6 linked regions of the Homo sapiens genome follow. The protein of the gene in region 1 purifies or fractionates together with the protein of each later gene. This does not show direct contact. Each region holds a gene or a part of one and is shown in the gene's direction. Other genes may lie near its edges.

What was found.
Region 2: the proteins of TMEM68 (region 1) and MTMR3 purify together in Homo sapiens (affinity purification with mass spectrometry; one large-scale study listed by BioGRID and IntAct). This does not show direct contact.
Region 3: the proteins of TMEM68 (region 1) and TMEM63B purify together in Homo sapiens (affinity purification with mass spectrometry; one large-scale study listed by BioGRID and IntAct). This does not show direct contact.
Region 4: the proteins of TMEM68 (region 1) and CUX1 purify together in Homo sapiens (affinity purification with mass spectrometry; one large-scale study listed by BioGRID and IntAct). This does not show direct contact.
Region 5: the proteins of TMEM68 (region 1) and GSTA1 purify together in Homo sapiens (affinity purification with mass spectrometry; one large-scale study listed by BioGRID and IntAct). This does not show direct contact.
Region 6: the proteins of TMEM68 (region 1) and MTMR4 purify together in Homo sapiens (affinity purification with mass spectrometry; one large-scale study listed by BioGRID and IntAct). This does not show direct contact.

What each region holds. Positions count from the first base shown.
Region 1 is NC_000008.11:55,748,459-55,753,715, reverse strand, and holds part of TMEM68 (DGAT1/2-independent enzyme synthesizing storage lipids), read left to right. Parts: intron 1-2,558; coding exon 2,559-2,752; intron 2,753-5,257. UniProt on the Homo sapiens protein: Catalytic subunit of the alternative triglyceride biosynthesis pathway, which mediates formation of triacylglycerol from diacylglycerol and membrane phospholipids.
Region 2 is NC_000022.11:30,020,917-30,026,173, forward strand, and holds part of MTMR3 (phosphatidylinositol-3,5-bisphosphate 3-phosphatase MTMR3), read left to right. Parts: intron 1-1,112; coding exon 1,113-1,223; intron 1,224-1,692; coding exon 1,693-1,781; intron 1,782-2,540; coding exon of another isoform or gene 2,541-2,567; intron 2,568-4,713; coding exon 4,714-4,885; 3' UTR 4,886-5,257. UniProt on the Homo sapiens protein: Lipid phosphatase that specifically dephosphorylates the D-3 position of phosphatidylinositol 3-phosphate and phosphatidylinositol 3,5-bisphosphate, generating phosphatidylinositol and phosphatidylinositol 5-phosphate.
Region 3 is NC_000006.12:44,151,536-44,154,174, forward strand, and holds part of TMEM63B (mechanosensitive cation channel TMEM63B), read left to right. Parts: intron 1-310; coding exon 311-473; intron 474-1,057; coding exon 1,058-1,163; intron 1,164-2,140; coding exon 2,141-2,308; exon of another isoform or gene 2,309-2,442; intron 2,443-2,537; coding exon 2,538-2,639. UniProt on the Homo sapiens protein: Mechanosensitive cation channel with low conductance and high activation threshold. Osmosensitive cation channel preferentially activated by hypotonic stress.
Region 4 is NC_000007.14:102,194,303-102,199,559, forward strand, and holds part of CUX1 (Homeobox protein cut-like 1), read left to right. Parts: intron 1-1,204; coding exon 1,205-1,301; intron 1,302-2,331; coding exon 2,332-3,003; intron 3,004-4,499; coding exon 4,500-4,565; intron 4,566-5,257. UniProt on the Homo sapiens protein: May be involved in intra-Golgi retrograde transport.
Region 5 is NC_000006.12:52,792,932-52,798,188, reverse strand, and holds part of GSTA1 (glutathione S-transferase A1), read left to right. Parts: intron 1-551; coding exon 552-603; intron 604-1,874; coding exon 1,875-2,007; intron 2,008-3,922; coding exon 3,923-4,064; intron 4,065-5,201; coding exon 5,202-5,257. UniProt on the Homo sapiens protein: Glutathione S-transferase that catalyzes the nucleophilic attack of the sulfur atom of glutathione on the electrophilic groups of a wide range of exogenous and endogenous compounds.
Region 6 is NC_000017.11:58,500,119-58,505,375, reverse strand, and holds part of MTMR4 (phosphatidylinositol-3,5-bisphosphate 3-phosphatase MTMR4), read left to right. Parts: intron 1-401; coding exon 402-597; intron 598-887; coding exon 888-1,073; intron 1,074-1,155; coding exon 1,156-1,326; intron 1,327-1,477; coding exon 1,478-1,632; intron 1,633-5,257. UniProt on the Homo sapiens protein: Lipid phosphatase that specifically dephosphorylates the D-3 position of phosphatidylinositol 3-phosphate and phosphatidylinositol 3,5-bisphosphate, generating phosphatidylinositol and phosphatidylinositol 5-phosphate.

The sequences.
Region 1 (5,257 bases):
ATTTTCTTCTGTCACTGAATCACCAGAAACAAGCCAAGAGAGTTGTTAGTATGTTCTCTGGTATAAAAGCAAAAGCTGACACATCAACCAGACAAACACAACCAAACAGTGAATTAAGTAATGATCTACTTCAGTGCCTATAAACAGTTAATGCTTTGGGTATCCATGTGTCACTAAAAAGCCATTTGTGTATAAACATATTGTTTATGGCTATGTTTTCTGTTAAAAACTAACATGATCACTATAGTAGATTTGGAAACTAAAAAACAGAACATCATTATAATCTTACCATCTTAACATAATGTTTTCATTTTGATTTATTTTACTTCATTTTTTTACTTACAGTAACATAGGCAAACAGTTTTGTGGGGTTTTTTTTTAAGATTTAATGTTAGCATTAATATTTTTACCATGTTTTATAAGAAAAACGTTTAGTGTATGACTAGAACATTTACTTAACTGTTTTTCTCTAATGGAGCATTAGGTTGCTTCTACTTTTTTCGTTTTTAGCAATAATAAAATGTGAATATTTTTAGCATTTGCCTTTTTCAAAAAATTTTCCTCTTTATGATCTTTTTAATGATCATAAAGATCATTAAAGACCTTAAGACACTAAGACCTTAAGTCTTTCTTTGCTTTCTGAAGGAATAAAATCATTATAATTCTCAGCACAAGAGAGATTTTAGGGTGGGTGCCATGGCTCACACCTGTAATTCCAGCACTTGGTGAGGCTAAGGCAGTAGGATTGCTGGAGCTCAGAAGATTGAAACCACCCTGGGCAACATAGCAAGACCTCGTTTCTGCTAAAAATAAAAATAAAAAAATCAGCCAGGCATGGTGGCACAGTGCCTGGAGTCTCAGCTACTTGGGAGGCTGAGTGAGAGGATCGCTTGAGCCCAGTAGAGCAAGGCCGTAGTGAGCTACTATTGTGCCCCTGCATTCCAGCCTGGGTGACAGAGCAAGGCCCTGTTTCCAAAAAAAAAAAAAAAAAAAAGGGATCCTATATTTTATCCTATTATGTATGAATCCTTCCCTGTTCATTCATTCATTATGAGAATGCATCTAGTTGAATCAGTGAACATTTAATATAATGTGGGGTGACAATTATTTTCTTTTCTTTTACTTTTTTTGAGACAGTCTTGCTCTGTTGCCCAGGTTGGAGTGCAGTGGCTTGATCTTTGCTCACTGCAACCTCCGCCTCACGGGTTAAAGCAATTCTCCCTGCCTCAGCCTCCTGAGTAGCTGGGATTACAAGCGTGCGCCACCATGCCCGGCTAATTTTTGTATTTTTAGTAGAGATGGGGTTTTGCCATGTTGGCCAGGCTGGTCTCAAACTCCTGACCTCAGGTGGTCTGCCCGCTCATCTTCCCAAAGTGCTGGGATTACAGGTGTGAACCACCACACCCGGTCTGACAATTATTTTAATCTTAATGCTATTTATAAACTTGCCTCAGATCTTTAATGAGAAGTTTGGTTGGTCTGCATAGTGTTTTTTGTTTTTTTTCTTTGAGACAGAGTCTTGCTCTGTTGCCCAGGCTGCAGTGCAGTGACACAATTTTGGCTCACTGCAACCTCCCCCTCCTGAGTTGAAGCCATTCTCCTGCCCCAGCCTCCTGAGTAGCTGGATTACAGGCACGTGCCACCATGCCAGGCTGATTTTTGTATTTTTAGTAGAGGCAGGGTTTCACCACATTGGCCAGGCTGGTCTTGAACTCCTGACCGCAAGTGATCCACCTGCCTCTTTCTCCCAAAGTGCTGGTATTACAGGCGTGAGCCACCGTGCCTGACCAGTCTGCGTAGTTTTTAACATCAAATGCATCGCTATATTTCCCATTCTCAGGGAATAATGTATACTAACATCAGTCCTCAGAAGTTCCAGTATGGGATTTGATTAAAATATTTAATTACTAACAGGATTATTTCTTTCATCCATAAACAGTTGTAATTTGAAAAGCTGTATAATATTAAGACTTGGAATTAGCTGCTCTTGAGTCAAGCACTCTCACTTTATTAAAATCTCTTAATGATGTTTGCTATTTTAAAAATTTAATTATAGAATTAGCATTATCTAACTTTTAATTTAAATAGATTTGATCATGGTCTTGCCAGTTTTGGAAGAGCTAAGCGTAGTTTGATTCACATTCTCCTGAGTGATTCTCTTTTTTATAGGGTTAATGGAAGATTAGATTTCTGATTGCTGATGGGATATCATTTCTGAATCCCATTAGAATCCTATCTCTGGAATCTCTGCCCTGCCACTTCTTAGATGTGTGACTTTGAGCAAGCTATTATTCTGTAAGCCCAAGTTTTCTCATTTGTAAAGTGGGGAGAAGAATACCTGTTTGTCAAGATTGTTGTGAGTTTTACTTAAGAATTTGAGCCAGAGAAGCTTAATATCAAGCTTAAGTTAACCTTTAGAGTTTTTGTTGATTTTAACAAGTAAAAAAGTTTACTGATTTAAGTATAAATAGTACACTATGTAGTTTGTGAAGATTTTTCTTTTGAAGAATTAAACAAGAAATACTTATGTTGTAACTTCATACTCATGTTTCTTACAGGGTTTAGTTTATTACTGGATGTGTTTTGTGCTCTACATGGACCAAGAGAAAAATGTGTTGAAATTCTGAGGAGTGGCCACTTGTTAGCTATCTCACCAGGTGGAGTTCGAGAAGCCCTAATTAGTGATGAAACTTATAACATCGTATGGGGTCATCGCAGAGGCTTTGCTCAGGTTGCAATTGATGCAAAAGTGGTGAGTTATATAAAATTAATTATTGAAGTAAAGCTTAGTCAAATTTAAAATAAATGGTTAAGTAATGAGCCAAATTGTATAAGAACTTAGACACTTTCGCTGCAATACCTTAAAAATTAGTATGTAGGCCGAGTGTGGTAGCTCACGCCTGTAATCTCAGCACTTTGGGAGGCCGAGGTGGATGTATCATGAGGTCAGGAGTTTGAGACCAGCCTGGCCAACATGATGAAACCCCATCTGTACTAAAAATACAAAAATTAGCCAGGCATGGTGGTGCATGCCTGTAATCCCAGCTACTCGGGAGGCTGAGGGAGGAGAATTGCTTGAACCCAGGAGGTAGTGGTTGCAGTGAGCTGAGATCGCACCACTGCACTCCAGCCTGGGTGACAGAGTGAGACTGTCTCAGAAAAAAAAAAAAAAAAGACTGGAGAATTTGAATGTCATTTTGTTCTTTTACTTTGCCTTCGGAAAGTATTTCTCAGCCTTTTGGTCTCCATATTGTACTTTAGCCTATGAAACACTTATCTATTACCTATGGAAAGTTTCTGCTTCGTTTTCTGTTTATTTTAATTCTGATTGTCAGAAAAAGAAATTACGTTTGATAGAGTATTGTTCTTTTTCCAGGCCAGTTAGAGAATATTGTCAGTAACTTAGTTTTTTAGTTGTATAGAAAATGAATTATGGCACATTTTACTTATTTCCCAGTCTTAAGCACTGACATAGAAAACAAAAACCTAGACTATATGAATAATATAGAATACAAAAGGATATATGCAGTTATACAAAAATTAAGAATAATCAATATAATGTATATGAAAACAATGATAAAAACTAAAATCCTAATCAAAGATGGTTCAACTTTCAAGTTTATATTTTGAAAGAATTGTTTTTTCAAAAGTTTAAGATAAAGATGACAAAAATAGATTTAAAATCACATAAATATGCCATGGGATTCCAATTCCTCATCCTTAAGTTTACATTTTCGGCAACATATTGCTTGGAAGAAGGACTGAAAGAGATAAATGATGCAGAGAAAATAACTCTTTCTAATCCTCGAGTTTCCAGATAATTAATTTAAATAAACTAGATAATTTAATTGAGATTTTTATATAAAACTTTAGAAAGTTTAAGAAATACCTTTTTATAAGTTTAAAAACAAACAGAAATCTTATAAGTTTGATAAATATTGTGCCACCCCAACATCTCATAGCACTTTTAAACACTTTATCTTATACTCCTATTCAGTAAGGAGGTGATGCATATAATTATTCCAATGTTGCAGATGAGGAGACTCAGGCACAGAGAGATGGAGGGATGGAAGGGATCTGGTCATTCAGCAAGGCAGCAGTAGAGCAGAGCACACAGTTCAGAACTCGAGGCAACCGGTACTGTTGCCATTCCTGACTACATTGCACAGTGAGTCTGCTGACGTCTAAGACTGAAGGGGCTTCCCAGATACGTGAGGGAAGTCTTTCAGTAATATATATGTGTATATATGTATAGTTGTAAGTGGCACAAGTATCCCCTCTGGAAAATCCCTTAATAGGCCTCACAAAATTATAAGCTGTGAACAAAATTTAAGGCTATTGTTACAGGATTAACCACATTTAAATTGTAACATAGTAATAGAAATTAAAGGGGAAAAAGCCTGATTGTCAAGGCAAGTTCACAAAATATTGGTAGAAAATATTAAGGTTTATTCGAAAGTGACAGACTTTTTGATATAATACAAATCACCCTGGTTTGTGAATTCTTGAGACTTACAACTTTGGTAAGAACTTTTAGATAACTTCATGTCTACATAAGTTGAGGAGATAACTAGTCCATTTACTGTAATTGTAAAGTAAATAGCAGATATAAAAGAAAATATTTTGTTTCAATAAAATTATATGAATTATCTCACTTTATCCATAAAAACTTTGAGATAGAGATAATTATTATTTATTCCCATTTGATGCATGAAGAAAGTGAGGCTTAAACATGGTAAGTAACTTTCACAATGTCTCCCACATTTTTAGTGACAGAGTTAAGATGTCAAGACCCCAGTAATAGTTTTTAAAAATGTACATTCTCAGCTGGACATGTGGGTTCATGCCTGTCATCCCAGCACTTTCGGAGGCCAAGGCAGGAGGATCACTTGAGGCCAGGAGTTCGAGACCAGCCTGGGCAACATGGTGAAACCTCATCTCTGCTAAAAGTACAAAAATTAGCTGGGCATGGTCTTAGCTACTCAGATGGCTGAGGTTGGAGGATGACTGGAGCCTGGGAGGCAGAGGTTGCAGTGAGCCGAGATCGCACCATTGTGTTCCAGCTTGGGCGACAGTAAGGCTCTGCTTCAAAAAATAAAAAAATTATACATATATATTCTCTCTCTCTCTCTCCCCCCCTTCCTCCCTCCCCTCCCTCCCTCTCTCCCTTGCACACATGCATGCACATACATTACATACAGACACACATTTATATATGTAAGCAATTGAATTCTAGGTTGCTGATGCAACTCCTTCA
Region 2 (5,257 bases), on another chromosome or scaffold:
CCAAGGAGACGGCATGCTGAGGCTGGGTGCCCTTTGTGCCCAGTGCATGGTGATTGGTACAGGTTGTTAAAGGATTGGAAAGGTCCAGAGTAGCCCTGTTAAGAGAGGCTGGAGATGAGCCTCCACGACAGCGATGGCAGCCTGCCTGTTTTCTGCTTCGCTTACTTTCTGCAGATGTCCTGTTGAGGCCGTTGGAGAGGAAGAGACTTAGCATGCACTGCATGGTTGATCAGATCTCTCAGACACAGGATCATAAGTCTTCAGAAGGGCTTGAACCCATGGGCAGAATGACATCTGTAGGGCAATGCCAAGTTATTCCTGTCAGATTTTAGTGCCTGTTCTGCCTTAGTAACTACAAAGTATTAGTCCTTCCAGACGTGGGCTATGGCTTTGAAGGTTCAGTTCTTTTTAAACAAATATTTATACCCATCCTGTGGCAGATGCTGCCAGTAGAAATGGAGAGAAGGGACTGGTTTCTAGCACTGTTGAGGAGTTAGCTCTGATGGGGGTTTGTGGCTGGAAATGGGGGTTCCAGAGGGGGAGGTTCTCAAGGAGGTGCTTTCCTCTCTGGGTGGACTTGACTCAGGCAGCTCAAGTACAAGTGTGAGCCTGGCTCTCAAGTGGTCAGCGTACATTAAAGGCGGGCACATCCAGTGACTTTCAGTTCAGAGTGACTTGGCTTTTCCTTCATGCTAATGATAGTTTCTCATGTTCCCAGAGAGTCCTTCTAAGAAAAGGAGGGCATCCCGAAAGCACTCAGCTTTAACTTAGTGGCAGGCAGGGTTGGATTGACAGGCCCACTGGAGCAGCTGACATACAGAATTCTCATTCCATTTTGGTCACTTCCCTCTCACTCACTTTCTGGAACCCTGAGGGCCTGTTTTTCTACTCCAGAGTCACTGCACACAACCTGTGTATCCCTCTCCCAGCTGAGCCCAGGCCCACACTGCACTTCTTCACCCCAGTTCTTGATGGCTGATGCATCTGCAGATTCGGCAGTCCTAGCACTCGGCCCCACCCAGAGTCCTCAGTTCTCCCTTCTTCACCAGGCCTTTTCTTCTTTTGGGAGGAGACCAGGTTCATTCTGTTCAGCTGTGTTTGTTTGCCAACAGACTTCAATCCCCGACTCGGAAAGCAATCTGGATCAGAACTGTTTGTCTCGCTGCAGCACAGAGATTTTCTCTGAAGCCAGCTGGGAGCAGGTGGATAAACAGGACACAGAGGTACAGGCTCAGCCCCTGCTCTGAGTGCCATCAATTTAACTGTTTTGTGGTTCTTCTCCACCCCCATTCCCACCCCATACCCCTGGCCAAGGAAGCACCTCCCAGCACAGCTAGCCCTGAGCCTCTGGCACCTTAGCTCCTGGGAACCCACATGAAGCCTAGGATTTCTGAGCCAGGGAGACTCAGCAAGCTGGCCCTCCCTCTTCATTGCCTCTATGAACTGGAGCCTTGCCAGCTCTCACAGTGACCCAGGGTGCTGCTGCCTGCTACTTTATCTCAGGGGAGATTGGAGTCCCCTCCAGGGAAACGATTTGGACGCCTTTCTTGTACTGTTGACATCAGATCTGCTGGGCTGGTGCCACTGGAGCTGATGTGGTCCTTGTGACTCTTGCTGCCCCCAGCATGGCTCTGCTGGCTCCAGCTGGATGGCCCATCTCCTGTCAGTAACCTGGTCCCATCTGTTTTGCAGATGACCCGTTGGCTTCCTGACCACCTGGCCGCCCACTGCTATGCGTGCGACAGTGCCTTCTGGCTTGCCAGCAGGAAGCACCACTGCAGGTACCATTGAGGGGCTGTGGTAGGGTGGGCTGTGTGTGGAGGTTGAGGGTCGGCCCACAGAGCCTGCAGAGTAGAGGGTTGTGGGTATCTCAGTGTTCTGTCTGAGGCAGAGCCATGGTCTCATCTTCCTGTGCCTCTGAAATTGGTGTTTGCAAAACTGCATTTGGCATCTTTGTTCAAATTCAGAGTAATCACTGTTAAATTCTGAAATGTGCAAATGGTAGCATTTTGTTGTTTCCCAGATTGGTGAAACAACAGCCACCACTGAAACCACCATTTCTTATTCTCAGCATAACATTTCTTCCCATTCAACATGGCTACTATGAGCAAAACCAGTTTTCCTGCGATGGGGAGGGAACTATTTTCCTATTCCTTTCCTGCTCCCTGACCCCACACTTGTTTTCCCTTGTGCCATTGGTGAGCAGCTGTAGCTTGGGAAGTAGTAGAGACAGCTGAGGACAGTCTTCCAATCATTAAGGTTCCTGACTTCTTTTTCCTTCTGGGTTAGGGTAGTGAGTTTACTAGGGACCCTTTGCCCCAGCTAGGGTGTTGACTGTCTGGTGGATGTTCAGTGTTCTTAGAAGAGGAAGTTTATCTGAATCATGCCATAGCTCACCCACACGAGTGGGTGGATTGAAAATGGAACAGTCTCTTTGCCTAGTAATGATGCTTCTAGGACATGTATCTCCCCACCCTGCACCCCAAGCCCAGATATCTTTGGTTGGCTTCTCTTCTGAGCTCTTTCTCCCCTCCTTGCAGGGACACTGACCGTGTTGATCAAACGTGGTGAGCATTTGCAACAACCTGCCTGTGATGTCTGCACATCTACAATAACTTCTCCACACTAACTCTTATCATTTCCCCCTCTCTGCACTTACTAGGGTGAAGCCTGGGGCCTTGGGTGCACAGGCAGATAGGTGGGCTTGAGGGGATTCAAAGCAGCTGAGGAGAGGCCATCGAGGGTGGGTCAGGCTGCAGCCATGTGCTCCCCTCCTGATCACAGAGGTCAGCCAGGCCGTCTTGCTTGTGACGAGAAGTAGTGCTTCTTGTCTTCTGGTCTTGTAGGGGAACCAGTTGGGTTTTCAGAGCTATTTATTTTGGGTCAGTGATTCATTGAGATGCCAGAATAATGCTAGTAATTTCCAGGTCAAACAGCATCACTGCTTCTTTTTTCCCTTTTTTTTTTTTTTTTAAGAGACCAGGACTGAACAGAGGTGATCTTTCCAGAGAATTGTTTTAGCTTGGAAGACTTCAAGGAAAGATTCCACTTAGTGTCTTTCAGGGTCCTCTGAAAGAAGTCAGATAGAAAAGCATCAGCCAGGTGCGGTGGCTTACGCCTATAATCCTAGCACTTTGGGAGGCCGAGGATGGCAGATCACCTGAGGTCAGGAGTTCAAGACCAGCCCGACCAACATTGTGTAACTCCATCTTTACTAAAAATACAAAATTAGCTGGGCATGGTGGTGCACGCCTGTAATCCCAGCTCCTTGGGAGGCTGAGGCAGGAGAAGAGAATCTCTTGAACCTGGGAGGCGGAGGTTGCAGTGAGCCAAGATCGCACCATTGCACTCCAGCCTGGGCAATAAGAGCAAAACTCCCATCTCGAAAAAGTAAAGAAAAGAAAGAAAAGCATCAAATTCATGTCAGGCTTTTGAGCTGAACTCCAGCAGGAATGTTAAAGAAGTGTAGATGTTCAGAAATTTTTCTGTGTAACTACAGGTTTTTGCTGACTCACGCTTTTTAGAACTAGTTACGAAGTACAGCATTCTAGAAGATGAATTTTGTGTTTTTCTTTTCTGTCTTTCCATTGCCCCATGTCCCACCTTTTCCTTTTGTGGTATTCTTTTGTTCCCAACTGGTCTTAGTCTTCTCTCCTCCTGTGCCTAAGTGATCCTTAATCCAGCAGTGGGTTTGCATTCCGAACAGCATAAATGAAAAGTTAGAAGGCTAAGAAGCTGCCCTCCCCCAGTCTTTGGTGGGCTGTGTCAGGCTCCTTGGAGCTTCTTGTTCTTAGGCTCATTAGGATTGATTTGTACCTCAGGGCCCAGCAAAAGTAGAGTTGTAAGGTGGGCAGAAACTCATTCTTTGCCAATTCCCTTTCCTGTTGGCTCTGATGGGCATCCATCTGGGGGTGCAGAACTGTGCTGCACAGATGCCTCAGAACCCAGCTTTCAGGGGAGGAGGAGAGGGATGCCTGGGGCCTGAGTGCATTCTGGCCTTCTGGTAGAACTCTGGTTTTCCCTGGAGATGCATGGGTCGGGGAGTGAGCCATAATTGACTGACACCTATCTAATAAGGGGGTGTGTGTGCACGTGTGTTCATCCTGTGTTCTTGTCCTCCCACCTCTCCTCTTTCACCCTCTGAGCATGCATCACAGGCTACTTGTCCCTGGCTTTGCATGCTGCCAGCAGAGCAGTCCAAAATGGCAGCAGTCTATCTGCCATGTTGCTGCCTTTGATCCTCTGGAGAAGTGGCCGTTGGGCAAGGCTCCTTACTCCCCAGTGAGGCTGGGTAGTTGTTTCTCTCGTTTGAGGAGCCTGGCCTCTGTGATCACAAGCTACACAGAGGGCATTGCCTAGGTGGGTGTGGCCACTGGGTTTTCCTGGATCAGGACTAACCCATTGTTAGGACCATGTATTCTTACAGATCTCTCTTGAGCAGCATTCTTTTGTATACCTGAGCAGCATTCTTTTGAGTCAGTGGTGAGGCAGCCAAGAATCCTTGGCCCCAAAGTGAAAATGACATGTGACTCTGCTAGGTAGGGACACCCTCCCTACCCAGCTTGTTCCTGGGCTAGAGAGATGAAAGGGTTTGATCTCAAGGAGCTCCAGCACATGCAAATTACACACGGCAAAGTTTGTCTTTTGAAGTTGGTTTCCCTCCGCATACCTGCTGGCCAAAACTAACATTGTTCTGTTTCTTCTCATCTCAAGGAATTGTGGGAACGTATTCTGCTCCAGTTGTTGTAACCAGAAGGTTCCAGTTCCCAGCCAGCAGCTCTTTGAACCCAGTCGAGTATGCAAGTCTTGCTATAGCAGCCTACATCCCACAAGCTCCAGCATTGACCTTGAACTGGATAAGCCCATTGCTGCCACTTCCAACTGAAGCTCAGTGACCTGGGTGGGCAGTGGCCAAGCTGCTGTTCCTATGACAGGCCCACTCAACCTGGGCAGACCGAGAGGCCCGTGCACTTTGGAATGGGAGCGTGGAACCACCTGTACAGAGTGACAGATTTGGGATGCACCACTGGATTGTAGATTGATTTTTCTTTCCTGTCCCCCTACTCCCTCCCTACCTTTTCCATCCTCCTCCTCTGCCTTCAAAAAAGGAAACTTTCCCTTGGTTGTCTTAATTTTTTTTTTTTTTGATGGAAGACCAAGGGTTGCCAGGCCCACTGTAACTGCCGAGCTGCCTGCTGTCACGTGACACTGAGGGATGGCTTGTTTCTTCCGGGTGGGAGGATGGTGGTCAGAGCCA
Region 3 (2,639 bases), on another chromosome or scaffold:
CTTTGAGGGTCTCATTGGGTTGTCTTTGGGGGTCCTGGACAGTTCTCCCCTGAACATTCTAGCAGCCTTAGGTGGTCTTGAGCACTCTCTCCATGGGTCTTTATGGGGCACAAGTTCTTGGAGCTGTCTGTTGCCACTCTGTATGTCTCTGGGGGGAACAGGGCACAGGTGCTTGGGGCGCTAAGCTGGGGGTGTCCACATGGAAGAAGCATGTTGGTGGTGGAGGTGTTGGGTGCTGTAGTTCTGGCAGTGGGCGGGCGGCCACCGGGTCACCCCAAGGGTGCAGTGCTGGAGCACCTGGTGCCCGCAGGTGTGTGTTCCTGCCCGACAACGGCGCCTTCTTCGTGAACTACGTCATTGCCTCAGCCTTTATCGGCAACGCCATGGACCTGCTGCGCATCCCAGGCCTGCTCATGTACATGATCCGGCTCTGCCTGGCGCGCTCGGCCGCCGAGAGGCGCAACGTGAAGCGGGTACGGCCGCCTGGGGCAGCAGCGGCCCGCACAGCGCCCCCTGGTGGCCCAACAAGAAACAGCAGCCATCGCGCTAGGGTTGAGGGGCACAGGAGGGCTGAGACTTGGGGAGTACAGTTGACTCACGGTGGATCCGGGCCATCCCCTTCCCATATCTGGGGCCTTCGTATTCTGCCATGGGTGGACATAGGTAACCCTGAAGGCCCCTGCCAGTTCTGACAGTAGCATTCTATGATGGGAGTTGGGGAGATCTGGGTCCCTAGCGCTAGGGTCCCTCTGTCTTAATAAGAGGGCTCTGGGCATCCCACTCTCAAGTCCACCCAACTCTTGCCCCCTACCTGCCAGGCCCCGACCCTTGAAGGCCCCTCTCCGTGCCCCATCACTGCAACCGCCCTGACCCTCCTCTCGGCCATAGCCCCTCTCTCCATCTGCTCTGCCCTACCCTACCCTAGACATTAGGTCCTGTTCCCCATGGCTTCTTTTCCGGCCCCAGAGGTCCTGGCTCCCTTCCCCCTCCCTCCTTCCCTGCCCCTCTGGTCAGTCCCTGCCTCCCTGAGCCATCCTCCTGCCCGTCTCCCCCCCAGCATCAGGCCTACGAGTTCCAGTTTGGCGCAGCCTACGCCTGGATGATGTGCGTCTTCACGGTGGTCATGACCTACAGTATCACCTGCCCCATCATCGTGCCCTTCGGTAGGCACCGCCGCGCCGGGACCTGGGCCCTGCTCGGGGGGACCCAGGACTTCACCCTCTCCACTCTAGGAATGCAGGCCACCCCGAGTGGACAGGGCCCGGCTGGGAGACCGGCCCCTCGGGGCTCCCGCCCGGTCCCTGGCTCAGTCTGGGGCCTGGCCTGTGGGGAGGAGGGGGAGAGCCATCAGCTCAGGCCAGACCCAGCTGGCATGTGGGCCCCAGGGCAAAGTCACACCAACATGGCCATACTTACCCACACCTGTGCCTTCCCTCAGCGGGATGTGCTTGGACACAGATCACATACGTGCTGACATGTTCACACACACACTCCCACACAGGCATCCATGTGCACACTTTTACACCACCCTGTAAACTCAGGAAAGACTTGGATTCCAGGGTGGGATGGGTCCTTGCCACTCATGGAGATAGTCTGCTGTATCTGAGCTATGTGACTTGGCCAGGTCTCTCTTCCTTTTTGAAGTTTAGCAAAGTTTCTCTTTAACCATCACCCCCACTGGTAGCCTCTACTTTCCTCCCTAATAACATCCTAACTCCTTAACCAACCCTCCCTGGTTATTGAAGGCTCCAAGTTCCCAAACTAACTTCCTTGTCCTCATTAGAAACTCCCTATCCCTCAGCCTCTGGGGAAATAGAACTTGTCCCTTAATTTATACGTATCTGTTTAGGGACAGGGTTAGAGAAAAATGATACGGGTTTTAAGAAGATGCTTGTTGATTCAAATGACTAGATTTCCAATAGTAGAATTCCTGATGAGGAGAGTAGAATGAGGGGTTGTAGCGGAGGAAGCTGAAGTTCTGTGATCACGCTGGGGCACGGGGCACTATCCCGTCCTGGGGCCCGGGCAGGAGGAGGGGGCCAACCCTTCAGCACTCTCAGGACCAGAACAACCTGTGACAGACACACAAAAGGTTCGGCAGCACTGGTTCCGAGGTCAGGGCCCATGTGGCTTCCCTTAGGGCTCATGTACATGCTGCTGAAGCACCTGGTAGACAGGTACAATCTCTACTACGCCTACCTGCCGGCCAAGCTGGACAAGAAGATCCACTCGGGGGCTGTGAACCAGGTGGTGGCCGCGCCCATCCTCTGCCTCTTCTGGCTGCTCTTCTTTTCCACCATGCGCACGGGTGAGGGATCCCTACCCAGGGAACGGGGGGTGGCGAGCAGAGTGGATTCCAGCCAGAGCAGGCCACAGGAGAAGCCGCATGGCTGGGGGTGGCAGGCAAGGGGCCTGGGAGAGGCTGGGGCCAGTCTGTAGCACCTGGGAGAGTGAGGACTGCATTCAGAGGGTATCAGAAGCTGGGGTGGGGAGGCCCACAGGAGATAGCAACCCCATTCTTTGCCCCCCAACACCAGGGTTCCTAGCTCCCACGTCTATGTTCACATTTGTGGTCCTGGTCATCACCATCGTCATCTGTCTCTGCCACGTCTGCTTTGGACACTTCAAATACCTCAGTG
Region 4 (5,257 bases), on another chromosome or scaffold:
ATTGTGTTTAAGAAGGCCAGGCTCAGTAGCTCATGCCTGTAATCCCAGCACTTTGGGAGGCCAAGACAGGAGGATCGCTTTGAGGCCAGGAATTTGAGACCAGCCTGGGCAATATAGCAAGACCATGTTGCTATTAAAAAAAAAAAAAATAGCCAAGTACTGTGACATATACCCGTGGTCCCAGCTACTTGGGAGGCTGAGGCAGGAAGATCGCTTGAGCCCAGTAGTTCAAGGCTATAGTGAGCTATGATCGCACCACTGCACTCCAGCCTGGACAACAGATTGAGACTGACTATTTTTTTTTTAATTGCATTAAAGAGCAGCCAAAAATGGATTGGTTTAGGAACTTTAGTTACATGCTGCCTCAGTAGAGAAGGTACAAGGGAAGGATGACTGTGGCCCAGGGTCATCTGGTGGCCAATTAAAATTGACATCCCAGACCAAGCATGGTGGCTCACTCCTGTAATCCCAGCACTTTGGGAGGCTGAGGTAGGTGGATCACTTGAGGTCAGGCATTTGAGACCAGCCTGGCCAATATGGTGAAACCCTATCTCTGCCAAAAATATAAAAAATTAGCTGAGCGTGGTGGCGCACGTCTGTAATCCCAGCTACTTGGGAGGCTGAGGAAGGAGAATCACTTGAACCCAGGAGCCAGAGGGTACAGTGAGCCAAGATCATGCCACTGCACTCCAGCCTGGGCGACAGAGTGAGACTCCATCTCAAAAAATTAAAAAATCAAATCAAATAAAATTGACATCCTAAGTGGAATCTGACTCCTGATGCCCAGAAGACAGCCAACATCTTTGTGGCTGGCAAAAAAAAAAAAAAAAGAAAAGTTCCCTTTACAGTAACGTTCGGACAGACGTTTGTGGCTTGGCAGCCAGTCTTATGGCCAAATGAGGCACGGGCTCAGGTCGCTTGAGTTTGAGAACAGATGAGAGAATAATTAATTTTTTTAGGAGCTGTGGAAGTCTAAGAAGGAAAATGACTTCAACTAGAATCCATTCTTTCTAAAGGGAACTTGTTTTCCACGTGTGTTAAACGACTTGGGGGGAAATCAGCTGTCCGCAGCCCACTTCCTAATCAGATCGAGAGCTGGGTGGGAACGCGGACAGATGGAGGGAGGCAGGGCTCCAGGCCTGGTGGCCCCGGGAGCGGGTGAGTGGCCGGCCCCGCAGTGAGACCCCCGCTCTGCCCCTTCTAGGATGCGGCCAAGCCCCTGGAGGTGCTGTTGCTGGAGAAGAACCGCTCGCTGCAGTCCGAGAACGCCGCGCTGCGCATCTCCAACAGCGACCTGAGCGGTAGGTTGGCCGGGCTTCGCGCGTGTGCGGTGGTTGGTTCGCTTCCAGGGGTCGGTCGAGGACGAGGAAGGTGAATCGTGAGTCTGGACAGATGCATGGCCAGAGAAGCGCCGGTTGACGAGAACCTTTGACTAACGCGTGTTGGGTGCCCTCCTCCTCACCGCTCCTCCCTTCCCTTCCCCGCCCTGCTTAAAGCTGGATGTCGAGACGGGCCAGCCGCACAGGCTCTGCGGAGGTCAGTTAGGGGCAGTGCGGCTGGAATCCCCGGGAGGGACAGCTCGGAGGACGTCGGCCTTTCTGATCTGTGTCTGGTTGTGCTGCACAGAGGCCAGGGGCAGTGTGAACCCAGCCTCGCTCTGGTGGTGTTTTCAGGGACAGCCCCGGGCCTGCCGGGTCCAGTAGAGGTTTTTCTTCCTTGGTCAGGTTTCCCCTGGGGACGCGTCCCCCATCCTTAGCCTTTCTTGGCTCATCCCCCAAATGGTGGCGTCACTTGACTGTGCTTCTGGTTTGGGCAGCTGGTAAAACGCGTACAGGTGTCTCGGGCTCTAATGGTATTGCATTCTCAAAACGGGCGCGCGCCTCCACATCGAGGGGGCTCGGTACGGTGCATCGCCTCAGAGCAAGAGGTGCGAGCGAATCCATTGGTCCTAAAATGTCAGTGTTTGCTGCTCCTCCGGCCGGGGCCAGCGGGCCCAGTAAGAGGCCCGCGACCCGTCAACTCTTCCCTGTGTGTGTCACCAGCTCCTTGTCACGCTAGGAGTTTGAGTCTATGTCAAGGGGACTCTCCAGGCTGCAACGTACAAGAAAGGCGCAAACATGAATGCATGTTGCTTGTTTTGGGAAGCCTCGTTTGGCTGACTTACAAATTTAATCGGAAAACAAACCAACCCACCTCATTGGCCCTTGTAAAAAAAACCTGCACTTTTTTTTGTTTTCCCTTTTGCGGGGGCAAACTTTTGCATTTTGGTCTTGGTTTTTTTTTCCCCCTTTGGAATCCCCCATAATGCATTCTGTTTGCCCTTCCTTGTAGGGTCAGCCAGGAGGAAAGGGAAAGACCAGCCTGAAAGTCGGCGCCCGGGATCTTTGCCGGCCCCCCCTCCTTCTCAGTTGCCCCGCAACCCGGGGGAGCAGGCTTCCAATACTAATGGTACACACCAGTTCTCACCAGCGGGGTTAAGTCAAGACTTTTTCAGCTCATCCCTGGCAAGCCCCAGCCTACCCCTGGCTTCTACAGGAAAATTTGCACTAAACTCTCTTCTCCAGCGGCAGCTAATGCAGTCCTTCTACTCCAAGGCTATGCAGGAAGCCGGAAGCACAAGCATGATTTTTTCAACAGGTCCATACAGCACAAACTCCATATCTTCCCAAAGTCCATTACAACAAAGCCCAGATGTCAATGGCATGGCCCCATCCCCCAGCCAGTCAGAAAGTGCTGGGAGCGTCTCCGAGGGCGAGGAGATGGACACTGCAGAAATCGCCCGGCAGGTCAAAGAGCAGCTGATTAAGCACAATATCGGACAACGTATTTTCGGACATTATGTGTTGGGACTGTCTCAAGGGTCCGTGAGCGAGATTCTGGCCCGGCCCAAGCCATGGAATAAACTGACTGTTCGTGGCAAGGAGCCATTTCACAAGATGAAACAGTTCCTCTCCGATGAGCAGAACATCCTGGCCCTCCGTAGCATCCAAGGCAGACAAAGAGGTGAGAGACTGGCGTTGGGTGGCGCCAGCGTGCGAGCCCGTCACAGAGTTGCACATGTGTGTGTGCATGCGTGCGTGTGTCTGTGTGCGTGATGAAACATTTGTGCATCACATCAGGTAAAGTTCTCTTTGCTTCTGCCACGTCCAGAGCTCAAGGGTGGCCCGGCATGAGTTAAGGCTGTTAGATTTGGGAGATCTGGCCTTTGAAACGCACTCAGCACTCCATACTTAGGAAACCCTATAGTATTTCAATACTAGAGATCGTATCAGAGGGAATTGCATTACATGATGTATAGCGTCTCCGTATGCTTAGTGGCCGCGGGTCCAATTGGCCTTGGGTGCTGGTCTCACTTTTGGGAGGAGCCCTTAAGTCCCCTCCAGCCCCATAGCAGCAACGTTGACTGGGCTCGATCCTCATGCAAAGCTGGTTCTGTAGGGAGAACACATCACAGATGACACCTCCCCTCTTCCCACCCCGCAGAAGAGGGCGTGTCCCATGGCCACCTTCCCTACATTGTTCACGGTCCATTAGTGATTTGTTTAGCATTATGAGTAAAACAGGCCTGGCTTGAGTAAAATACACAAAAGTTTTATTTAAGCACCCTTTCTACCCCACCCTCCGTAAAAAGATAAAATGTCAGTCACATTCATAATTTCAAAAAATCCCAGCCGGGCACAGTAGCTCACGCCTATAATTCCAGCAGTTTGGGAGGCTGAGGTGGATGGATCGCTTGAGTCCAGGAGTTCAAGACCAGCCTGGGCAACATATATTTTGTAATCTTTTGATCTACAAAAAAATCAAAAGGTTAGCTGGGCGTGGTGGCGTGTACCTGTGGTCCCAGCTACTTGAGAGGCTAAGGCAGGAGGATGGCTTGAGCCCAGGAGGTGGAGGCTGCAGTGAGCCATGATTGAGCCACTGCACTCCAGTCTGGGCAACAGAGTGAGAACCTGCCTCAAATAAAAAAACAAAAAAGAAAGTTCCTTTTCTGTTTAAGACCAGGGGATCAATGTGCCACATCAACAGAGCTATTGAGAGGTCATTTCATCAGACATGTTTGAAACACCCTGAAATTTAGACTCAAACAGAGCAGGGAGATGTTTTGAACAGCATCAATTTGCACCAAGAAAATGCAGTGTTTTATGAGGATGTTAACCGAAATTGAATGTCTTTGGATGATTAATGCGAGCTTTGTTCTGGGGGCTGGCGGGTGATCCTCCTTCAAGGCAGTCCTCCCTCCCATGGACCTCCCTGGCCTCAATGCCGTAGGTCGCTACTTAGATTTCCCCCATCTCCTTTTGCAGCAGAGCCACGGCCTCTGCGGGCCGGTCAGCCAGGGAAGGGCCTCTCAGAAGATTCTAGAAACTCCCGAGTTGCACAGGCAGCCCTGAGCCCTTTCTTTAGTGACAGGCGGCTCAGATTTCATGTCACACAGCCCATATCGTCAACACCACCATTCCCCTGATTGTTTTGTTCTTACCACACTTGTTTTTCAACAGAGAATCCAGGCCAGAGCCTGAACAGACTATTTCAGGAAGTACCGAAACGAAGAAATGGGTCTGAAGGTATGTTGCAGGCAGGCGTTTTCTTTGCAGTCAGTCACCTAGGGAAGCAGCATGTCCTTAGCTGTGTATTTGGGTTAAAACTGTGCAGTGTGATTCTGGCCTGGAACCTGATGGAAAAACAGCTAGTAAGTATAAAACAAGGCACGGGTTCAAGCACACCCAGCCCCTTCCTCCCGAGCTGCCTGCCCTCTCCCAAGCACAGGCGGGGGTGAGAAGAGGCATTGCTAAGCTAAGCCCCCCGAGTCTGAATCCCAGCCCACTTCAGATCCTAATTACCCGGTCCCCCGTTTTTCTCAGACGCAGTTGAAAAAATAACAGCGGTTGCTCTGAGAAAAGTCAGGTGACCCGTCAAATTAAATACTGCTGCTTCCTCGTATTTTTAACTCGGAAACACACTCAAGGTCCTATGGAACGGACGCATCCCACATCGTCCCGGTGGCATACTTGTTTTTAAATGGTGGTATACTTGTTTTGAATGCAGTGGTTCCTATTTAGGAAGGTAGTAAGAAATTAAACTATCCGGGTGGCTTCCCGAAAGAGCTGGGGCCAGCCCCTGGGCCATAGTAGCCTCATTTCGTCGGCACGTGTGCCTGCACAAAACATCACCATGTGGCCGAAAGAATCCATCCTCCCCACTTAGGAATTTCTGCAGGCTCCTTTCCTCGTATGTAAATTTTAAAAAGATATTATGT
Region 5 (5,257 bases), on another chromosome or scaffold:
TGCCTCGTACTTCAGAAGAGAAAATTACAGTTGCAAGTGTGAAAGCTGTGCAACAGTGGCGACCTATTTCACACTTAGCAGGGTTCCTGAGAAGTGGGGCGATACAAATTACAGCAGAGGCTCCTTGGTGGCAAAATGTTTGATAGCCATTAGCCCATGGCATGCCTCATGCTGGGGACACACAAGGTTGTGGTCTGATCTCACTTGGAGACACAGGCTTTCCTAAGATATGACAACACCATAACTAGAAGAACTGCTCAGTGCCTTTTCTCCAGTGATGTCCCCCTCAAAATATGACCTAATCATAGACATTCATATCAGGGTGGAGTTGAAGTGAACTAAAAGATTTAGCAGCTATGTGCTGTGACCCATGCACTTTTCTCAATGAATTAGGTCTAAATTTCCAAATGGCCATGACCAGCCCCCTCTGTGTACCCTGCCAAACTCAGAAATCTTGTATTCTCCAAATGATGCACCAGATGGGGCCATTCAAGGCCACAGTCTATAATAGAATGAACTAACAAGAACGTATTTACTGTTTCTGCTTCCAGTTTGAAGAGAAATTTATAAAATCTGCAGAAGATTTGGACAAGTTAAGAAATGGTAAGATCAATCTCTAAGTTCCTCTGATGAGGGTATCTAGTAGAAGGTACACGGGGAGGTTTGCGCAGCCGGCAATGTCTATGGGTGTGGGGCATGGTATTTGTACATGGTGCAGAGGGAGAAAGTGGTTAAAATGGAAGGGATGTGGCTCCTTGAGCAAGTCTGGCAACTCTCTCCAGGTTAAAAGGACCAGACCTCTCAGAGTATTTGCTAGAGGAACAATCTCCCACCGCTGAGAAAGCCCTTTCTTTGTTTTCATGCTTGGGGCACCATGAATGAGTGGTGGTCATCAGCACAGGATCCCATACAGCCCTCCCCATCCAAGCACATGCAAGAACATGCATTAGACAAAAGGAGGAGGAATAGATGTGGCCACTGTCTTGAGTTTTTTCTTTCATGGGGGGAGTGGGACTGGGTAACACTGTAGCAATATCGCAGACTTTGAAGAGCACAGAAAGGGACCCTTACATAAAAACCTCTCAGAACCTGCCTTAAATGTCACAACACCATGAGACTTACTCTGGGAACTTCCTGTTTTAAATGGCATCTTGTTGCCAGTCCTATTGTAACTTGTCCCAACCTCTTCCTAAAATATCCATGAAGATAAATCAACACAAAAAATACAAGAGTCCCACTATGTATCTGGAGGGGCAATAAAAACATATATGAAATAAATGGATAAAAAGTAAAAGGAAACTTCTTAAGAAAAAGAAGAACTACAGGAAGCTTTTTAAAAATGTTGTTTGGACTGGGTGCAGTGGCTCATGCCTGTAATCCCAGTTTGGGAGGCTGAGGTGGGTAGATCATTTCAGTTCAGGAATTTGAGACCAGTTTGGCCAACATGGTGAGACCCTATTGCTTGTAAAAATACAAAAATTAGCCATGTGCACTGGTGCATGGCTGTAATCCCAGCTATTGGGAGGCTGAGGTAGGAGAGTCACTTGAACCTGGGAGGCAGAAGTTACAGTGAGCCAAGATCATGCCACTCCACTCCAGCCTGGGTGACAGAATGATACTCTGCCAAAAAAAAAAAAAAAAAAAATATATATATATATACACACACACACACACACACACACACACACACACACACACATATATATATATATATATATATATATATATATATAGTTTTTGTTTCAAGTGAAATCTTACCAGGCAGTAATTTCTTTGCCATTTTACAAATTTAGTCATTTCCACAACCATTTGTTCATCCCAAAAGGGTGGGTTTCATAGACACTTCACTCTCCTTTTTTTTCTTCCTTCTAAAGATGGATATTTGATGTTCCAGCAAGTGCCAATGGTTGAGATTGATGGGATGAAGCTGGTGCAGACCAGAGCCATTCTCAACTACATTGCCAGCAAATACAACCTCTATGGGAAAGACATAAAGGAGAGAGCCCTGTACGGTATATTTTCTGTTCTTCCATCCACAGAGAACACAGAGTGATTTAGGTCCTTCCTTGAGTGGGTGGGACGATGGCAGGGCATCATGACCAGCAGCAGGCTGGGCCTTGGGCATGTACGCTGAGGTCCAGTATTGCAGAGTCCCATGGAGATGAGGGAACAGTGAACATGGGGAGGGTTCAGGCAAGGGTGATTCTAGAAGAGGATGCAGTCCATGGATCCAGCACCTCACGGTAATTTCCAAACACGGATGAACCATGAACTGAGGAGGATGGGGAATCATGATTCCAGGTGCTCAGGACTTCAGAGGCTCGACTCTGGCCAACAGTTTAGGACAGGCATAGAATATGTGAGAGTCTGTAGATGAAGGACTGGGGAGGGAAAGTTGCAAAGACGCCAAAGCTAAGGTCCCAGTAATTCCAAGAATGATGACCGGGAACCTAAATTACCAACCAAGTATATCAACTGGAATACTTGAGCAGGGCTAGTAGAGGCTGGCACCAAGGATGCTGGGGTTACCTTGACACATGGATAGAAGCACAAAACAGCCAGATTGATTCAATACCAGCAAAACCAAGGGGTCTCCTTGCTGTTGTGATGAGACTGCATGATTCCAAATAAATCCTGAATGAAACTGCTGGCAGCTCCTCAAAAACTTTAATATAGTATTACCAATGACCCAGCAGTTCCTCTAACAGGTATATCCCCAAATAATCGAAAATACATCCACACTATATATTTTACATAAATAAATAATGCGAATAACAATATTCATAGAATTCAAAAAGTGGAAACAACTCAAATATCCATCAATCAATAAATGAAGGAGAAAAATGTGCCTTAGCCATGCAATGGAAAGATATTTGGTCATGAAAAGGAATGAAGTACTAATGCATGCTATAAGACAGTTAAGCCATAAGACATGTTACATAAAAGAAACAAGACACAGAAGGCCACATATTATAGGATTCTTTTTGTATGAAATGTCCAGATAGTCAAATCCATAGAGGTAGAAAGTAGATTAGTGCTTGCCTGGAGCTAAAGGAGTGGGGCTTGGAGAAAAAAGAATACTGCTAATGGTACAGGTGTCCTTATCAGGGCGACAAAAATAATTCTGCAATTAGACTGTGGTTATTTTTACAGATTTCTGTGAGTGCACTAAAAACCACTCAATAGTATAATATACCTGGTGGCAATTATAGTATGTGAATATGCATCAATAAAGTTCTTGTTTTAAAAAGTATTGTGAAACTCCAGTTTGACACAAAAGAAGAAAAGTTTGCACTGGTTGTAACTGTATAGAGAATTTCACCAGGGAAGGGGATTCTTAGGTGGGGTCTCAGGAAAGGCACACATGGCTAGAGTTGCGCAACAGCACATGGAAAGGGCTGTGGAAATGTGTTTCATGGGTGTAATTGAAAGAACTGCAAATATGGGGCATAGAAGCAGCCCTGGGAGCTGTAAAATGATGAGAGAGGACAAGGAATATGGCTGACATGGCTGTGCCAGGGACTCTCTTAGGATTACTTAGGAAGCAGGTCTTTGGCCATTTGACTCACACTAAGTTCATGCACAGAACAAACCACAATGGAGATGATAAATCTTGGCACAGCATCAGTGGGTACTGGCAGTGATTCTGCCAATTTCTCTCATGACTGTGACCACCGACGTTCTTTTTACCTGTATTAGGTCATGTGTGTAACAAAATTTAGAGATCTATCTACCTTGATAGGTTAAGAGATAAATGTTAATATACCTGTAAAACTCAGAGCATAATGACTAGACTATAAAAGGCACCCACTGGAGGTGAATTATTTTGCCATCACCTGATACTCTACTCCCTTAGGTTTTTATAAACCTATAAAATCTAAGGCAAAAGGTATTTGACCATTTGGTTGTTTCTGTCTTTCAGGATTGATATGTATATAGAAGGTATAGCAGATTTGGGTGAAATGATCCTCCTTCTGCCCGTATGTCCACCTGAGGAAAAAGATGCCAAGCTTGCCTTGATCAAAGAGAAAATAAAAAATCGCTACTTCCCTGCCTTTGAAAAAGTAAGTGAAGCAGTTCAGTGTTTTGGGGAACTGAGTTTAGAGGCCAATAGAAAAATAGTGGCTGGGCATTCCTGGGTCACTGATCTTCACTTTCAGTGAGACTTCCTGAACACCAATGCAGCACTCTGACTCTCAAGGCATTTTATGAAAATAGACTTGGAGAAACAATTGTATCATTTATACCCAAGCTATACTTTTCCAGTAAAATTTTAATTTACTGGACCCCAACATGGAATTACCTGTTCAACAAGATTTCATGTTCATAAGTAGAATGTGGGCTCTGGACCACACTAGAGGTTGCTGTTGAGTCTATGGAACCCCATGGACTTTGACTGAACAGGGGCATGATGAAAGCGATCCATCAGAAAATATTCTGGCACCATATGCAGGAAGATAGGAGACCAATTGCCCAACCAGAGAATACTGTAGCGTTTCAGGGATGGGTATTTTTTAAAAGGAGAGTGATTGTGGGATGCAGAGGAAGATTTTTTAAAATGGATTTTAGAGTAAGTTGCAGACATCAGTGCAGTTCACCCGTAAACGCTTCAGCTTGCAGATTATAACATAGTGCCAGTTGGGAGTGAGAGTCAATGCTGTAAGAAAGATGAATTCAGGTTCACCCAGGTTTCCTACAGATCCCAGGGAGATAGAGCAGGGAATGAGGAGAGCAGACAAAGAGAAATGAGGACTCTGAAATAGTCTCCTCCTGGGGAAGAGTGTTGTCATGAAGGTGGAGTCACTGCCCAAGGGAGATTGGAGAGGGAGAGAGCAGAATGTAGAGCCACATCCTGAATGTGAGGGCTCCACGCTGTAGGGCCTGGGGCAGACAGAACACATGGAGGCAGGTGCTAAGCCCCTGGCCCATGTGGAAGAAGCAAGCTGCGTGGGTGGTGTAGATGCCACAGTGATGTAGAATGAGAAGAGAAAATGGGAGCCTGAGCTACAACTGAGGAGTGAGTAGAGTTACAGTTCTTACTCTCTCATTCATTCAGATAATGTGGAGAAAGCTCTGGATTTCTGCACCCATGCAGTAAGGCAACAGAGGTGGGGAAAGTCAGGGTGGAGAGGCTCCGAAAGAAGCAGGGGTCCTAGCCTGGGTGTGCATGTGTTCCTGATCTGATTCCTCCCATTCTCCAGGTCTTAAAGAGCCATGGACAAGACTACCTTGTTGGCAACAAGCTGAGCCGGGCTGA
Region 6 (5,257 bases), on another chromosome or scaffold:
CAGGAGACCTGAGGGCCTGGGTGGAGTTGGGTGCCGTGGGCTAGTTCCAAGAACCCTTCCACTTCTCAGCCAACACTTTGGCGTGGTCACAGGACATGGATTCCTTTCGTTTGGATCAGTTGTTCTACTCAAAGAACACAGAGAACTGGGGAGAGGAAATGGCTGAGTGTGCATGTGATGCTTCTCAGTTCCTCTTTTGAGCTTCAGATGCTTTTATCTGCTGTAGGTCCTGTCTTCCCTACCTTCCTGCTAGATACCTCTTGTCCAAAAGGCCCTGGGTTGTACCTCTTGGTTTCAGTTCTCAATGGGGACTTTGTTGGGTGGGGCTGGCTGTGGATGGTGGAGAGACTGCTGTGGCCTCAGCACCCTTTGTGACCGACTTGATGTCTGCTTTTGTGTAGCTGGTTGTCGGCACTGGAGAGTACCAAATGGCTGCAGCACTTGTCGGTGATGCTAAAAGCAGCTGTGCTGGTGGCTAATACAGTAGACCGGGAAGGCCGGCCTGTGCTGGTACACTGCTCAGATGGCTGGGACCGCACACCGCAGATCGTAGCCCTGGCCAAAATATTACTGGACCCATATTACAGGACGTTGGAGGTATTGAGAGGAATTCGGTGGGAAAACCAGAAGGAATGTGGCAGGAGGGAAGGTGTTGAGCCCTCTGGATCTGTCCTGGGGATCTTTCAGTAGAGGACATTGGTGGCTCTTTTTTTCTTTTTTTTTCCAACTCCCAAAGGCTTGGAAAATTGGTGGCTTTGAGTCCTCTTCTAGGTCCAGTCCTATTTTTCTTTGAAGCTGCCAGCTTCCTGCTTTGGGCAGTTCCCAGGGGAGTAGCACATCAGCATTTCCAGAGAGGCCCTATGTTTGAACAGTTTCTTTTTTTGCAGGGCTTCCAAGTGTTAGTGGAGTCTGACTGGCTGGATTTTGGGCACAAGTTTGGAGATCGCTGTGGCCACCAAGAGAATGTGGAGGACCAAAACGAACAATGCCCTGTGTTCCTCCAGTGGCTTGATTCTGTTCATCAGTTGCTTAAGCAGTTCCCCTGCCTGTTTGAATTTAATGAAGCATTCCTGGTAAGTCCTAAGGCCTGTGACAACAGGGATGGGGGGAATGACAGCCCGAGGCCCCCAGGTGCAAGCTCTCTCTGCTTTCTAGGTAAAACTGGTGCAACACACATACTCCTGCCTCTACGGCACCTTCCTGGCCAACAACCCCTGTGAGCGAGAGAAGCGCAACATCTACAAGCGGACCTGCTCTGTGTGGGCGCTCCTTCGAGCTGGCAATAAAAACTTTCATAACTTCCTCTACACACCCAGCTCAGACATGGTGAGTCTGAGCCCTTTTCCTGTAGGTGCTATTTAGAAACCTATAGGGAGAAGCAGCTGAGTCAGTAGGGAAAATGTAGAGTCAAGGGCTTAGGGAAAGAAAAAGGACAAGGAACTCTTGACAAAGCACTAGTATTGGGCTGCTTCCCTAGGTCCTGCATCCTGTTTGTCATGTCCGGGCCCTGCACCTCTGGACAGCTGTTTATCTGCCAGCATCATCTCCATGCACACTTGGGGAAGAAAACATGGATCTTTACCTTTCCCCAGTGGCCCAGAGCCAGGAGTTCTCTGGCCGCTCTCTGGACAGGTAAGAAAAGCCCTTCTTCCTTTCTCCTCTCTCCACTAGGAAGGCAGTAACTGTTTCCCATCTCATCTAAATGTTCTCTTTCTTTCTTTTTTTTGAGACGGAATCTCACTTTGTCGCCCAGGGTGGAGTGCCAGTGGTGCAATCTTGGCTCACTGCAACCTCCACTTCCCGGGTTCAACTGATTCTCCTGCCCCAGCCTCCCGAGTAGCTTGGATTACAGGCACCGACCACCACGCCCAGCCAATTTTTTGTATTTTTAGTAGAGATGGGGTTTCACCATGTTGGCCAGGCTGGTCTCAAACTCCTGACCTCAAATGATCCACCTGCCTCGGCCTCCCAAAGTGATGGGATTACAGGCGTGAGCCACCGTGCCCGGCCTCTTTCTGAGGTATTTAAAAGCAACTTCTTGAGTCATTTGCAGGAAAAACTTGGCCAAGACTTGTAGCTAGCCTGGAGTGCACTCTGTGTGTTTTCAAGGTCCTCTGAAGATAAGGTTGGATACTTTCTTTCCTGGAGGAGCTGCTATCACTCTGTATGATATACCCAAGCAGGGGAGAGAACAAAACAGAAAGGACTGTTTTAGGAAGGTTTGTGGGAATGGTCTTGATTTTTGTTCACTGGTACAGGGCATGGGGAGCTTGCTATATTAGTAGCAACCTTTGTTGTGTCCAGCATTAGCTTCCAGAAACATCTGACTCTCAGGGAAATGGGTTCCCAGCAGGAGGATGGCCTTATATTACTCCCTCAGAAAAAGGCCAGAATTTAAAAGGGAGACATAAAATTAGGTATCTTCTGGCTCAATGTTTGGGGAGAAGTGAGATGATGTTGGTTAATTTATGAGAGTAATACCTATTTCTTGTTTTAAAAAAATAGTCAATATAAAAGTAGAAAATGAAAATCTTCCCTTATGATCCTTGTCCCCACAGGTGTCCACTGCTAACATTTGGTACGTGTCTTTCCAAATGTTTATCTCTACATAGGTAAATCCACACTCACGCTTTCATATGGAAACATTTTTTATAAACAAAATCAGAATATTTTTACATACGCTTTTTACTTTTTTGCATATTCTGCAAATTGTTTTTCCCGCTTTGTATTAGGTTGTCTTCTCATGACAGCACATCTAAATTCCCTTTCTTGTTTTTATTGGCTTCAGAGTAGTCCACAATTTATATAACCAGATTCCTACTCATCATTTAGGTAATTTCCATTTTTTTTTTTTTTATCATTACAGGGAGTGCTTTACATCCTTATATGTGTAGCTTTTTAAAAATTTGTAAATTACAGGCTGGGCACGGTGGCTCATGCCTGTAATCCCAGCACTTTGGGAGGCCGAGGCAGGTGGATCACTTGAGGTCAGGAGTTCAAGGCCAGCCTGGCCAACATGGTGAAACCCTGTCTCTACTAAAAATACAAAAATTAGCCGGGCATGGTGGCAGGCACCTGTAATCCCATCTACTCAGGAGGCTGAGGCATAAGAATCGCTTGAATCTGGGGGGGTGGAGATTGCAGTAAGCCAAGATCACGCCACGCACTCCAGCCTGGGCAATAGAGTGAGACTCCATCTCAAAAAAAAAAAAAAAAAATTGTAAAATACACATGCTATTTACCATCTACACCATTTTTAAGTACATAGTTTAGTAGGGTTACTTTGTGTGTTTTTTTTTTGTTTTGTTTTTTTGTTTTTGACAGAGTTTCGCTCTGTTGCCCAGGCTGGACTGCAGTGGCACAATCTCAGCTCACTGCAACCTCTGCCTCCCGGGTTCAGGTGATTCTCCTGCCCCAGCCTCTCGAGTAGCTGGGATTACAGGCATGCGCCACCATGCCCAGCTAATTTTTGTATTTGTAGTAGAGACGGGGTTTTACCATGTTGGTCACACTGGTCTTGAACTCCTGACCTCAAGTTATCCACCATCTCGGCCTCCCAAAGTGTTGGGATTACAGGTGTGAGCTCCTGCGCCTGGCCAGTAGGGTTACTTTGTATGCATATTTTTGCATTTGTGCTAGTATTTTTGAATGAAAATACTGTGCTCAAAGGATATATATACATATATACGCGTATATATATATACACATATATGTATATATATCCGTATACATATATACATGTATACGTATATACATAGACATATACATATATGTGTGTATATATGTATACTATATATATACACACATATATACATATATACGTGTATATATGTGTATATATATCTCAAATTTTGATATTTGTTTATTGGCTGAGAGCTTTTTTGTTTTTTAGAGACAGGGTCTTGTTCTGTCACTCAGGCTGGGTGCAGTGGCACAATTATAGTAACCTCAAACTCCTGACCTCAGGTAATCCTTCTGTTTCAGCCTCCCAGGTAGCTAATTAGCTCATTAGGCATGTGCCAATTTTTATTTTTTGTAGAGACGGGTCTGTTGCCCAGGTTAGTCTTAAATTCCTGGCGTCGAGTGATCTTCCTGCCTTGGCCTCCCAAAACACTGGAATTACAGGTGTGAGCCACCATGCCCAGCCTGGCTGAAAGTTTTTAAAGTTAAAATATAACATATGTTATTGGTTGAATATTATAAAGGAAAACAAAAAGCCCAGCATCCCAAATTATTGGTTTTAGGGTCTTTTGAACTAAGTCATTGTGAGGGGACCGTGATAGGTTTCAGGATTTCAGTGATTTTTTTTTTCCTTCCCCAAACTATGCAGAATTTGGCTACAGGTTCATAGGTTTACTTTTCCTGGGAGAGGGGCCATAACTTTTAATCAAATTTTTAATAAGCTCTGTGACCCATTTAATAATCATTTCATTAACTTAGTATCTGATTTATCAATTCAACAAATGTTTCTTTAATACCTACAAGTTGCGTATTACTGTACTAGGTTTTGTGGGCTACAGCAAAGAAATAGAAGATATTGGTTCTACTTTCAAGATAATTTTAAGCTGTAAGATAAGACACAGAACAACTAGAGAGAGCAATTCTTTTTTTTTTTTTTTTTTTTTTTTGAGACAGAATCTCGCTCTGTCACCGGTTGGAGTGCAGTGGCGCAATCTTGGCTCACTGCAACCTCCGCCTCCCGGGTTCAAGTGATTCTTCTGTCTCAGCCTCCCGAGTATCTGGGACTACAGGTGCCCACCACCACACCTGGCTAGTTTTTTGTATTTTTAGTAGAGACGGGGTTTCACCATGTTGGCCAGGATGGTCTCGATCTCTTGACCTCGTAATCTACCCGCCTCGGCCTCCCAAAGTGCTGGGATTACCAGACCCGGCCAACTAGAGAACAATTCTAAGTCAACATCTAAGCAGATAAGAATGTGTGTAGTTCAGGCTGGGTGCAGTGGCTCATGCCTGTAATCCCAGCACTTTGGGAGGCCAAGGTGCGCAGATTGCTTGAGCCCAGGAGTTTGAGACCAACCTGGGCAACATGGTAGAACCCCACCTCTACAAAAAATGCAAAAATTAGCCAGGCATGGTGGCGTGCGCCTGTGGTCCCAGCTACTTGGAGGGCTGACGTAGGAGGATTGTTTGCTCCCAGCAGGTTGAGGCTGCAGTGAGCTGTGATCATGCCATTGCACTCCAGCCTGGGTGACACAGCGAGACCTTGTCTCAAAAAAACAAATGTGTGTAGTTCAAA